4 linked regions of the Homo sapiens genome follow. The protein of the gene in region 3 interacts with the protein of the main gene of each other region in a biochemical or structural test. Each region holds a gene or a part of one and is shown on either strand. Other genes may lie near its edges.

Evidence for each region. Proteins that work in one complex are often made in the same cells at the same time.
Region 1: the proteins of FN1 (region 3) and ITGB3 form a complex in vitro, tested with the Homo sapiens proteins (one study listed by BioGRID).
Region 2: the proteins of FN1 (region 3) and PDGFA form a complex in vitro, tested with the Homo sapiens proteins (one study listed by IntAct).
Region 4: of the proteins of FN1 (region 3) and MEP1A, one has a biochemical effect on the other in vitro, tested with the Homo sapiens proteins (one study listed by BioGRID).

The regions. Positions count from the first base shown.
Region 1 is NC_000017.11:47,305,827-47,309,326, reverse strand, and holds part of ITGB3 (integrin beta-3 precursor), read right to left. Parts: intron 1,857-3,500; coding exon 1,690-1,856; intron 1-1,689. UniProt on the Homo sapiens protein: Integrin alpha-V/beta-3 (ITGAV:ITGB3) is a receptor for cytotactin, fibronectin, laminin, matrix metalloproteinase-2, osteopontin, osteomodulin, prothrombin, thrombospondin, vitronectin and von Willebrand factor.
Region 2 is NC_000007.14:499,803-502,846, forward strand, and holds part of PDGFA (platelet-derived growth factor subunit A isoform 2 preproprotein), read right to left. Parts: intron 1,441-3,044; coding exon 1,314-1,440; intron 698-1,313; coding exon of another isoform or gene 642-697; exon of another isoform or gene 629-641; intron 1-628.
Region 3 is NC_000002.12:215,373,569-215,377,068, forward strand, and holds part of FN1 (fibronectin isoform 1 precursor), read right to left. Parts: intron 3,107-3,500; coding exon 2,930-3,106; intron 2,151-2,929; coding exon 2,061-2,150; intron 1,826-2,060; coding exon 1,646-1,825; intron 1-1,645. UniProt on the Homo sapiens protein: Fibronectins bind cell surfaces and various compounds including collagen, fibrin, heparin, DNA, and actin. Fibronectins are involved in cell adhesion, cell motility, opsonization, wound healing, and maintenance of cell shape.
Region 4 is NC_000006.12:46,831,389-46,834,888, reverse strand, and holds part of MEP1A (meprin A subunit alpha precursor), read right to left. Parts: intron 1,816-3,500; coding exon 1,351-1,815; intron 312-1,350; coding exon 138-311; intron 1-137.

The sequences.
Region 1 (3,500 bases), on a different chromosome or scaffold from region 3:
AATCCCAGCACTTTTAGGGGCCAAGGTAGGAAGATCACTTGAGCCCAGGAGTTCTAGACCAGCCTGGGTAACAGAGTGAGACCCTGTCTCTACAAGGGAAAAAAATACAAAAATTAGCTGGCTCGGTGATGTGTGCCTGTAGTCCTGGCTACTTGGGAGGGTGAGGTGGGAGGATCACTTGAGCCCAGGAGATGGAGGCTGCATTGAGCCATGATGGCACCACTGCACTCCAGCATGGGTGACAGAGCGAGACCCTGTCTCAAAAAAAGAAGGAAGGAGGGAAGGGAAGGGAAAGAAAAGGAGAGGAGGGGAGGAAGGGAAGGGGAGGGGAGGAAGCGTAAAAGGAAGGGGAGGGGAGGAGAGGGGAGGGGAGGGGAGGGAATGGGAGAGGAGGGGAGAGAAAGAGAAAGCACTATCCACAAACTGTCATGTTATCAGGAAAAAGTAAGACCCTCACTAGGTTTCCCAAACTATTTTCCAACAGAAAGTAACAAATCCTATAATGGTAGCTTCAAGAAACACATTCTTAGCCAGGCGCAGTGGCTCACGCCTGGAATCCTAGCACTTTGGGAGGCCGAGGCGGGTGATCACGAGGTCAGGAGTTCGAGACCAGCCTGGCCAACATGGTGAAACCCCGTCGCTACTAAAAATACAAAAAATAGCTGGGCACAGTGGCTGGCGCCTGTAATCCAGTTACTTGGGAGGCTGAGGCAGGAGAATCACTTGAACCTGAGAGGCCAAGGTTGCAGTGAGCCAAGATCGCTACACTCAAGCCTGGGTGACAGAGCAAGACTCTGTCTCCAAAAAAAAAGAGAAAGAAACACATTCCTGTGGGCCTCATAGGTACAGGATGTTCCACACTGTTCTAACAGAAACATCTCAGTTTCTTGGGACCCTTGAGTATAAAGCTCTGGGGTCAACATCAAATGGGAACAAACTTGCAGCCTAACTCTGGACATTTGGGGAGTCAAATAGCCATTTGGAGGGTCGAGGAAAAAAGTTGAAATGTGAAAGAAGAGCCAAAAGAGAATAGAGTAAGATTAAGTATATAGAAAGTTCTCAGTAAATGCTTATTTAATTGGAATAAATCAGGATAAAAGAGTAGAGTCTGATTTGGAAGTAACCTTTTATTTTATTTTATTATTATTATTATTATTATTATTATTTTTGAGACCGAGTCCTGCTCTGTCACCCAGAGCAGGGTGCAATCTCAGCTCACTACAACCTCTACCTACTGGGTTCAAGCAATCCTCCTGCTTCAGCCTCCCGAATAGCTGGGATTACAGGCATGCACCACCACACCCGGCTAATTTTTATATTATTAATAGAGACGGGGTTTCACCATGTTGCCCAGGCTGGTCTCGAACTCTTGAGCTCAAGTGATCTGCCCACCTTGGCCTCTCAAAGTGCTGGGATTACAGGCACGCGCCACCAGGCCCAGCCTGGAAGTAACCATTTATTTGAGGAGAAAGAAGAGAATGAGATGGAATGACATCCTGCCACTATTTCTAAGAGGCTGAAGGAAGCTGAAGGACAAGGGGATAGTGAGACCATCTCTCCCAGTTTCCAGAACAGAGGATAATGGAAAGACGATGGTACTGGCTGAACATGACCACCCAAAGCATCTGCTGCTTCCACTTAAGAGTCTCAGACCAATGACTTTAGAAAACGCCCAGCCCCGTCTCTTACTGTGTCCCATTTTGCTCTGGCGCGTTCTTCCTCAAATTTAGCGAATTCTTTTCGGTCGTGGATGGTGATGAGGAGTTTCCAGATGAGCAGGGCGGCAAGGCCAATGAGCAGAATGGCCCCCATCACTGAGAGCAGGACCACCAGGATGTCAGGGCCCTTGGGACACTCTGTGAGGAAGAAGCACAGAGCAGGGCGGTTGTGAATGAAGCAGGAGTCACTTGAACTGGCTATGAAAAAGGTGTTCTTGACAAAGTAACTAAGGTCCTTGAAGGAAATAGGACAGTTTTCAAAAATTAATTTTTTTAAGGAGACAATCATTAGGACAGCAATAATCTGCACTGAGTGGCTCAAATCAGAAGTCTAGACCTGGTAACCCCTAGACAGAACCCAGCCACACCTTTGTGTGGGGGTTCACCCAAGTGTTTATTTTAAAAATTAAACACAAAGAAGAGAACACCAGACACTGGGACCTACTTGAGGGTGGAGACGGGGAGGAGGTGGGGATCGAAAAACTACCTATGAGTCACTATGCTTATTACCTGGGTGATGAAATAATAGGTACACCAGACCCCCATGACTCACAGTTTATCTACGGAACAAACCCACACATGTACCCCTAAAGCAAAAATAAAAGTTTTTTAAAAAATTAAAAATAAAAAGCCGAGTGTGGTGGCTCACACCTGTAATCCCAGCACTTTGGGAGGCCAAGGTGGGCAGAGCACCTGAGGTCAGGAGTTTGAGACCAGCCTGGCCAACATGGTGAAACCCCATCTCTACTAAAACTACAAAAATTAGCCTAGCATGGTGGCGAGCACCTGTAATCCCAGCTACTTGGGAGGCTGAAGCACAGAATCACTTGAACCTGGGAGGTAGAGGTTGCAGTGAACCGAGATCACACCATTACACTCCAGCCTGGGTAACAGAGCAAAACTCCATCTCAAAATAAATAAATAAATAAATAAATGAATAAGAAATAAAAAATTGACTTTATTGGCAATATTGAATAATCAGGAGATTCTCCCCCTAAAATTTCATATTAGTCTCTTTAAAAAGAAAATCCAGGCCAGGCCCAGTGGCTCATGCCTATAATGCCAGCACTTGGGAGGCCGAGGCAGGAGGACAGCTTGAGTCCAGAAGTTCAAGACCAGCCTGGGCAACATAGTGAGGCTCTGCCTCTACAAAATTGTCTTTTTTAATTAGCCAGGCATTGTGGCATATGCCTGTAGTCCCAGCTACTCAGGATGCTGAGGTGGGAGGATCGTTTGAGCCTGGGAGGTCAAGGTCATAGTGAGCCATGATCGTGCCACTGCTCTCCAGCCTGGATGACAGAGGGAGAGACTATCTCAAAAGAAAGAAAGAGAGAAATACAGAAAGAGAGAGATTCTTATATTCCTGCAGAGCAGCAGTTAGCTAGAGCTGAGGAGGAGCTGCTCCTTTTAGTTGGAACTCATGTTTTCTAGTTTACCAGAATCCCCACCACTCTCCCTTCTCTCTCCTAGAGGAAGGCAGTGTGACTTGTTGGTGTGTCTGCGCTCCTGTGGATGTTACAGCCAGACTCCCTGGGTTTGAATCCTGACTTATCACTTAACTTTTATACATGATCTTTGGAAAATTACTTAACCTTTCTGAATGTCTGTTTCCTGTTTCTCCATCTTTAAAATGAAGATAGTAATAGCACTGACTTTAAAAGAAACTTGTTATGAGGAATGATTAAATTAAATATATCTTAAAAACTCAGAACAATGCCTGGCACAGAGTAAGTGCTCAGTAAATATCAGCTACCGTTGTAACGGATCTTCTTACACCCAGCT
Region 2 (3,044 bases), on a different chromosome or scaffold from region 3:
AGGCAACTGCAGATGGATGCCACTAGCCAGACAGAAGGCGGACACTGATGATACCTCAAGACTACCCTCCCTGCTCTGCAATCCCACCCTTAGATGAAAGTCATGAAGCTCGATCTTATCTCAATCCCTGTGCTGTCTGGTGTTACTAGCAGCCAAATGCAATTTCCAACACAGTAGCCAACAGCCCTGCACGTTTATAAAGGATTTCCAGATATATTCAGCCTCCAACAGTCCTTATCTGTAATCTCAGTTAAGCCTCAGTTTTTTCATCTGTCAAATGGGGTGGGTGATCCCAGAGTGGCCAGGCGCTCAGAGCTGCCCCACCGCTGCTCAGGTCGCCCAACCTGTTCCATTCATGTGCAATGCTCCTGCATCCCCAATCAACGACAAAGAGAAGGACAAAGCTGGAGGCAGGCTCCCAAGCGGGAGTGAGCCACGGGCCAGGGCGTTCTGCGAGGCAGGAGCGGACGGGGAGCAAGGAGACCCAAGCCCAGCAGACACCATCAAGGCCAATCAGGGCCACATCCCCGCCGCACCCGGCGAGACAGGAAGCGTGATTTGCTGGTGTGATCAGTCAGTTGCACCTCCCCGCCCTGCAGGACTCAGTGTGTCCGGCAGACAGTCCTACCTGGTTGGCTGCTTTAGGTGGGTTTTAACCTTTTTCTTTTCCGTTTTTTACCTGACTCCCTAGGCCTTCCTGTTAACAAAAGGGCAGGGCGGTGAGTGGGCCGAGGGACGGCCGTCGGGGTGAAGAACTGAAGCAACAAATACCTACGGCATTTGTTTATCTTTCCAGAAGAGAAGGCCAGCACCCTGGCACCGAGAAACTTCTGAGTCCCCTCATGCTCCCAGGGCCCAGCCATAGCAGGGCACAGAAGCCATTCTGCTCCTGGGTGGAGTCCGCGTGGCGGGGTGAAGGAGAGACCCCAGCCAGCCAGGGCAACTGCAGTCCTCGAACCTGCTCCTCCCGCCCACCCTGGCAGGAGGCCCTTCTGCAGATTCTTCTCAGCTCAGCCCCGCAGCCCACTAATGAATTGGGTGTCTTATGCACTCCCAGCCCCTCTCAGTGAGACCTGAATCTCCTCTCCTGCCAGTGCCGCAGCTTGGGCCACCCTCCCCACCGGACACCTGCAGGTGTGGGATCCGTCTCCCCCGCAGGCATCTGGCCCGGGAGCAGGGCAACGAATCCTTCAACAGCAGCCCAGATGCTCACAGCAGTAAGCGTTGCGCTCAAGGGGGCCACCTAACACCCCAAAAGCAAGGCTCTGAAGACCTGTTCTCCAACACCGATGCCGACGAAGGCAGCCACTCACCCGTGTCCTCTTCCCGATAATCCGGATTCAGGCTTGTGGTCGCGCAGGCGCACTCCAAATGCTCCTCTAACCTCACCTGGACTTCTTTTAATTTTGGCTTCTTCCTGACGTATTCCACCTTGGCCACCTGCCAGAGAGAACAGAGCCCGGCCATGAATGCCTGCATGGAGCTTCGGACATCACGACGTGCTGGGAGCCGGGGACAGGCTGAGAGGGAGGAGAGAGCAGCCTGACCCCTGACCTCCTCCCAGAAACACTACCTTGTGGTGGGGAGTGTAGCAGTACCAGGTGAAAAACCTACAAGCTGCAGTGCAGTTTTGTGTGTGTGTGTTTTAGTTTTTTCTGAGTAGGGTCTCACCCTGTCACCTAGGCCAATCATAGCCTCTGCAGCCTCAAGCTCTTGGGCTCAAGTGATCCTTCCACCTCAGCCTCCCACCTGTAAGCACAGGCCACCATGCCCAGCTAATTTTAAATATTTTTTTTGTGTGGAAGAGATGAGATCTCGCTATGTTGCCGAGGTTGATGTTGAACTCCTGGACTCAAGTGATCCTCCTGCCTCAGCCTCCCAAAGTGCTGGAACTTCAAGTGAGAGCCGCCGCGCCTGGTGTTGGAGCATGGTATTTAGCAGACTCATCCTATTTTTGTTTAAAATAAACCCAAAGGTTCACGTGTGCCTGGGGGGGCTGAAGGATGCACACTGCTAAGGTGTGGAAGTTTGGGAGTTCTGGGGTGCAGGTGGCCAGGGAAAGTGTTTGCTTGTGTGTGGATGTGCAGCTGGGAAATGTTTTCAAATGATCACGTTGTTTTTAAATACATTTTAAAAGCCAGGCTGAGCATGGTGGCTCACGCCTGTAATCCCAGCACTTTGGAAGGCCAAGGCGGGAGGATCACTTAACTCCAGGGGTTCAAGACCAGCCTGGGCAACATAGTAAGACCCTGCCTCTAAAAACAATTTAAAAATTAGCAAGCCATGGTGGCACCTGTAGTCCCAGCCTACTTGGGAGGCTGAGGTAGGAGGATCGCTTGAGCCCAGGAGTTTGAGGCTGCAGTGAGCTGGTATCACACCACTGCACTCCAGCCTGGGCAATACACCAAGACCCTGTCTCTATTAATATTAAAAAAAAATTTAAAGCCATGGCCTAGGAATGGGGGGTTCGTGGCTGTATCCTAGCCCAAGGTTGCTGTGGACTTGAGCGTCCAGATGATAATCCCAGCTGCTGGCCTGATGAGGGCCCCACCTCCCCGCCGGCCCCAGGCAGCAGGGCCAGCAGACCCATACCCAGGGTCCCCTCATGGCTCCCCCAGGTCCGAGGCTCTCCTTGGGCTCGGAGAGGCCTGACCTCGGAAACCAGGGCCAGGGATCCTGGGCCATCACCGAGGCTACACAAGATGATCCAGGAGGAGCACAGGCCAGCAGGCCGTGGCTATCAGGCACAGGCAGCTCAAAAGCGAACCAGACCTCAGCTGGGTTCCCCTCTTCGGACTGGACTTTGCCTGTCTGCGAGCCACGCCTGCCCTCAATTCTCCAGGCACAAAACCACAACATGGGGGTCCTGCCTCCACAGCCCCTTCCCCGGGGAGCTGCAGGCAGACAATGGCCCAGTCCAGGCCAGAGAGGGGAGCTTCAGGCATTCAACAAGAGAGGCAAGAAATCACACACACACACACACACACACACACACACACACACACACATAATGCACATATAGGCCCTGTCACGGGAACACAACT
Region 3 (3,500 bases):
ACCCAAATATCCTGCATATAAAGTCCGCATCGCAAACTAATTATCTTACTATCATATCTGACGCCTGAATAGACATTTTTTGGCTAACTTTTCCAGGGTATTCTTTTTTTTTTTTTTTTTTTTTTTTTTGAGATGGAGTCTGGCTCTGTCACCCAGGCTGGAGTGCAGTGGTGCTATCTCGGCTCACTGCAAGCTCCGCTTCCCAGGTTCAGCCATTCTCCTGCCTCAGCCACCCGAGTAGCTGGGACTACAGGCACCCATCACCACGCCTGGCTAATTTTGTTTTTGTATTTTTAGTAGAGATGGGGTTTCACCGTGTTAGCCAGGATGGTCTCGATCTCCTGACCTTGTGATCTGCCTGCCTCGGCCTCCCAAAGTGCTGGGATTACAGGCGTGAGCCACCGCGCCTGGCCTTTCCAGGGTATTCTTTTAACGTGGTCTTATTTGCCTTTTTGAATTTAAGAAAATCTATCAGCATCATATACCACCACTGGAATATAAATTTGAAAGAGAGTCCTGCAGATTATATACATGAATCTACTTAGGCCTAATAACCAAGCAGTCCTCAGTGGCAGATCAATGAAAAGTGAAACTAAAGGCAAGTGAAGGGTAGGAGAGATTGGCCAGTGTTTGTGCAGCCTCTGTGGGAAGTGTCTAGTTCAATTCCTCTCATGTCTGCTTCTATTTTCCTGTTCCCCCCAATTCTAAAAAGCCAGTGTCTCCTTCTAATGTCTGTATGTTCTGTGGGAATTTTAAAGTCCAGGTGATACTCTATACAGACTGATATGGTTTGGCTCTGTGTCTGCATCCAAATCTCATCTGGAATTGTAATCCCCATGTATTGAGGAGAGGAGGTGATTGGATCATGGGGTGGTTCCCCCAGGCTGTTCTCATGATAGTGAGTTCTCACAAGATCTGATAGTTTTGTAAGTATCTGGAAGTTCCTCCTGTGTGCTTCTCTCTCCTGCTGCCATGTAAGACATGCCTGCTTTTCCTTCCACCATGATTGTACATTTTCTGAGGCCTCCCCAGCCATGCGGAACTGTGAGTCAATTAAACCTCTTTATAGCAGTATGAAAACAGACTAATACAGATAGTTTAAATATTTCATCTCTTGGGCAAAAATAATACTAGAGGCTTATAGTCTTTCCCACCAAGGTAGACAACTCTTATTCCCCATTCCAGGCATTCTTCCAATGTGGGTGGTTGGGACTGCTCTGCCTCAAGACCTATCCTGTGATAGTGGTCAACAAGGTCAATGGCAGGTGGTGCACTGGCAAGTCCTGCAAGATTGCCATATCTATAGAGAGCTGAGTGTAATGACAGAATCACAATCAGCTAGTATGCTTTGAAAAATATCTTTCTCCAGGACTGAATTGACAGGTATCTGGCAAACTTGCAGCGAAAGGAAAACATGAGTCTAGTCATGCCATTAGTACAGTCTTGAAATTGCATTTTCCTTCACTCATGCCTTTTGGGATGTATTAGGCTCTACCACTCCTACACAGAGAATGCTTTTTGAGGTTATCAGGAACAGAGTTTCGCATTCTCATGACACAGTATCAAAGACGCTGTGGGAGTTTGCTAAGGACTTCATGTGTCCTAGGTAGTAAGAAGGAAAATGACAGCATGGAAGCAGCAATACCAGTAATAGTAGCCTCTGTGACACCAGGGCGGGGCCGAGGGACCACTTCTCTGGGAGGAGACCCAGGCTTCTCATACTTGATGATGTAGCCGGTAATCCTGGCACGTGGCGGCTGCCATGATACCAGCAAGGAATTGGGTGTGGTGGCCAGGAAACGCAGGTTGGATGGTGCATCAATGGCTGAAAGAAAACAAAATTAAGTCTCTAAGAAGGCAAATAACCAAGAAAATTACTCCCACACTTTTCTCCCGAGCCGTTCTAAACACACTTAAAAGAATCTGAGAATACTGTAAACCGGAAACAAGATTCTCTGGAATCTATAATACAAAAATATACGCCTCACATTTGTTTTTTGAGTTCATGAAACTGATTGCATACAAGTCAATGGCATTTCCTCAGTAGAAGGTATAGTTACCAGTGGAGGCGTCGATGACCACAGGGGAGCTCCGAGCATTGTCATTCAAGGTGTACAGGTAGATCTTGTAGTCAGTGCCTGGTTGTAAACCTGGGATTTGAGAAGAGATGATTTTTAACAGTTCTTGCTTTTTACTAGGAGAATTCTCAAGCTAGCCTGCAATTTTTCTGGGTTCTTCTATCATCCCATATTTATATAGACTACCAAAGTGGTCCACATTTGAACAGTAAAGTAGAGCATGCTATGGATGTTAACTGTTAACAAGAAACATATCTCGAAAGTGAATCACTGATACAGACAAGGACACTGGTAAAGTAAATTCTGGAATGCAAAAATGCTATGTTGGAAGAGGCCCTCTTGCAGAATGGGGGTCAGCCACTTATTGAGGTTTTCTCTTTACCGTAATCAGATGGTCAATAGTTGAGCCTTGGAATCACAATTTTAAAAAGCTAAAAAAGACCTCAGATATTGAATATTCTTCGGTTACAATTTTGGCCTTTATTAAGTGGTATTGTTTACTTTTATATTAACTATGCTTTTTAATGCTAAGATCTATACATCACTGTTTTTTATTTCTTTTAGTTTTAAACCTTATGTTACAATTTTTTAAATAAGAAAGGGCACAATGATGGAAGATCAAACTTGTTGATTGACACTTACGCAATTTCCATGACAAATATTACACAAAATCAGGCATTCAAAGGACAAAACTATTTCTGATCATAGCATGAAAATAACGTTCTAAAACTGGGTTATGATGATAACACTGAAAATAAATTTTATCAGTGTCAGTCGTAGAACAGTTAATAAGCCCGTTTACATTGTGGGTATTTGTTAACAAATGTGGTTAGTGCAATGAGTTCCCTGACCTGTGATGGTGTAGCTTCTGACATCTGGCTTGATGGTTCTCTGGATTGGAGTCTGGCCATTGGCTGGAACGGCATCAACTTGGAAGCCAGTGATCGTCTCAGTCTTGGTTCTCCAGCTAATGGTGATGGTGGTCTCAGTAGCATCTGTCACACGAGCCCTTCTTGGTGGGCTGACATCTGCACAGGAGCATAGCTAGAGATTAGTGCCTGCTTGGCTCATCCATGTAAAGTTTTGGTATTTTAAAACGTTTCCTTGGTATATATCAAATTCATCCATTTCAAGAAATATATAACTAGTAATGTGTAGATTATCTCCTTTGGCATTCAGAGAGAAAGGTCAACTGTAATTAGAAAATAGGAAAATATCTACCTCTCAGACATTTTATTTTGAAGAGCTGAAAAGCTTTATAGATACTACCAGTGGTTCCCAGGGCTGGCTTTATAGTATCTACAAATACTTCAATAAATATTAAAATTATTAATGTATTATAATGTAAAAATATGTGTGGTAGGAGTTACAATAACATGGCCAGCTAACAATTTTGTGTGTGTGTGTGTGTATGTGTGTGTG
Region 4 (3,500 bases), on a different chromosome or scaffold from region 3:
TGAATAAAATGTGATTCTCCTACAACACATTGTTTTAACCTCATCCCCACCCTCCGTGTGTGCTTTAAAAATCAGGATAAAATCAGTAGAGTGCCAAGAGCATAGGATTATTTACTCAGGAAGACCAACAAAAGTACCTTCAAAGTCCACAAATATGATGAGGTCATCATTTTTCAGGAAACTCCTCCTTTTCAGCATTTGGTGGGAAATGAAACCACTCCAGCCCAAGTCGATGCTTCTAAAACAATTACAGTCCGTATGATAGGTTCCCACCCTGGACGGCCTGTCCCAGATGACAGTGTCATTTATCGCTGCAAAGTTGTAGGTAACATAAAATCACATTACCTCTTTAGACTTCACTTTCCAGTTTGTCTTTAATGAGGATACAGGGCTTTGTGAATCAGAAATAAATAAATAAATAAATAAATAAATAAATAAATAAATAAATAAATATAAAAATAAAAAAAGTGTTGGAAAAAAATTAGGCTATTTACTATTTCCAGGAGAATTGCAATTCAGAATTGAAAGATGGGAGAGGCAGAGAATCACAGCTCTGAGTGATCAGTTGTCTGCTACTGAGCGACTTTCTTAATGAAAAGAGAGGGACAGCTACGGCTTCTTTCTTCTAAGGCTTAAGTCTTCTCTTTTGAAAAAAAAAAAAATTAGTGCCAGGCGTGGTGGCTCACGCCTGTAATCCTAGCACTTTGGGAGGCCAAAGCGGGTGGATTGCCTGAGCTCAGGAGTTCAAGACCAGCCTGGGCAACACGGTGAAACCCCATCTCTACTCGGGAGTCTGAGACAGAAGAATTGTTTGAACCTGGGAGGTGGAGGTTGCAGTGAGCCGAGAATGCGCCATTACATTGCAGCCTGGGCGACAGAGGGAGACTCCATCTCAAAAAAAAAAAAAAAATAGTTTGCCCATTTCTTTACTGATGTAAGTTTACTTCATGAACATAGTAACATTGAGTACTATTTTAGGAGTAAGTACATTAGCTCTGCACAGAGCCCAGCAAGTTCCAAGTATTTGATAAATGATTAGCAGTATCTATTTCCTCAATCACAACGAGCTCAGTGAGGCAGGGATCACCTGATTCACTTGTATTCTAAGTACCTAGCACCGACTTTGGCACATGGTAAGCCCTCAATAGATGTTTGATGAGTGAATTTAGGAAAGGGAAGGAGGATGTGATGGCATTGAAAATCTTGACTTGAAACTCCAACAAGACTATGTTATTGGTATTCCCAAACAGACAATGTGAGGAGAACGTTACTCTTTCTTGCACCACAGAATCACATCTGTGGGCCTCTCTGGTTCAAGGGGCAGTTCTTATTTGCGCTGACACCACCCACCTGGAGATGTGTGCGACTTCGAGGTAGTGAACACCATGCTTGAGGACATCCTGTTCCGGACATCAGGCTCCTGGTCAAGGATGGTAATTATCACCTGTCTGTTTTCTACCGGCCACTCCAGGATAGCATCGTTCTCCCCACTGCACACATGAAAAGCAAGTCTCAAGTAACCAGAGCTTTCTCTGCTATTTGGGTATAAAGTTACCCCAAAACCATATCCCTCCGAATTGTAGAATCGAGGGCTCTGAAGCTTGTCCCCTTTGCTGGTGTTCTCAAGGACTTGGGAGAAATTCCGGACTGTCCAGACCCCTGTGGGGCAGGGGGTTTCTGTCAGAGTGATGTCATCTAGGTAAATTCCCCCAGTTGAGTTCTGAGGGTCGCCTTTTGTGCCCTGGAAAAGGTAGCGAAACTTCTGTTCCTCTTTGAGCACCACATGGGCAATTTTCCAATTGTGGTCATCATCTCCTGAGGACAGAGAACAAGGCTGGTGAGAACTGTGACCAACACTTAATGAGTACTTATTATGAGTTTGGCACAGTGCCATGTGCTTTCCATAAATTATCTCATTAAATCCTCACAACAGCCCTATAAAATAGGTACTGTTATAAACTGGTTAAGTAACTTTTCCAAAGTTACATACCTAATAAGGAAAAATTGTTTTTTAAAATACTATGATTTATTTTAAAATTCACATTCAAATCTTAACCGTGAATTTGTTTTCCACTATAAGAATCCAGGTTCTGGATTTCCTCCTGAGTTGGCTGGTTCAACTGTAACCCCTAAGGTTAGCAAAGAAAACCCAAGTGTTAGGCTGAATCATATAAAATAGCCATTTTCTAAGCCAAAAGTAAAAAAAATAGTAACTCCATATGGTCCGACCTGTCACTTGTTGCCAGAGAGCTATAAGGAATGCTGAAGAGCAGATAATAACCTGTAGGACTGACTGGATCTTCCCTACCTAAAACTGACTCCCTCTCCAACATCTAGACTTTTTTCTCTTCCTTATATTATCTGAAAGTCCACCATGTAGGGGAGCAAAGTAAGCCAAATAGAGTACTATTGTCTGGAAATGCACGTTCTAATAAAGATTAGGTCTACTTGCTTTTTCTCTGAGCATGAACTAGAAGTGGGACTTTCGAATTAAGAGCTGAGGAAAGATGGTGAGAAGGCCGTTCTAGAACATAGGATCCTGGGTTGAACAGTATAAGAAGCCAGACAGGAGCTTGGGGGTACTGGAGAGAGGAAACTGCGAAAGCAAAGCAACTCAATTCCGCAAAGAGATGTGCCTACACTGATATTTTTGCACAGGGTATTCCCTAGAGTTGGGCTTGAAGAGGAGAGGAAAAATGCTTCCAAGTGGAAGTCATGTTGGCTAAACTGAGTTCCTACAGATGAGTGTCTTTTTTCCTTCTTCTGTGTCTTTTAACCAGATATCTACTTATAGAACTATACTTTCCCTGAAAAGGAAAAGACCTTTAATCTCCCTTGTGTTTTCAGGCCATTCTCTCTAAGTACAACTTCAAGGGACAGGTCTAACAATGTTCTGTTTCTTAGGGTGGAGCTGATTATGGCCTGTGTGGTTAGGTTACATGGGAACACAGGAGAGAGGTAGGTTACATGGGAACACAGGAGAGAGGTAGAGAAGGCACACGACCACCTCTGTAACATACAAATCTAGGCAGCTGCCCTCTCCTGCGGAGAGCATGGCAGCCTAGTGGAAGACACATGGACTTGAAGGGTAATAGGTGCCAGAAAGTCTAGGAATAGGAACAGAGATATAGGATTTGAACTATTTATCCAGCAGGTTATAGATCATGGGAATTCTGTCAAGAGAATAGGATTCTGTTCTTGCTGATTAGTACCTGCTTTGTTTTTTCTTAATATAGGATGTCAAAATGAGGTTGAGATGGGGGAATCTGGCACTGGGAAGGAGACCCAAGAGGCTATACCACATAGGCAGAAATTCATCTATGAAATTATTAAGATGGTTTCGTTTACATGCTTCCACAGGGCTGCCCTAAATCAGTCAGGCAATAATGCTACTACGATTGTTTGAGACAAATTTAATCCCTGTTAGTTCAGAATTGTCTTCTATAAGGAAGTCCTGGCCTCAGTAAAAACGTGTGTGTGTGCATGTGTGTGTACATACA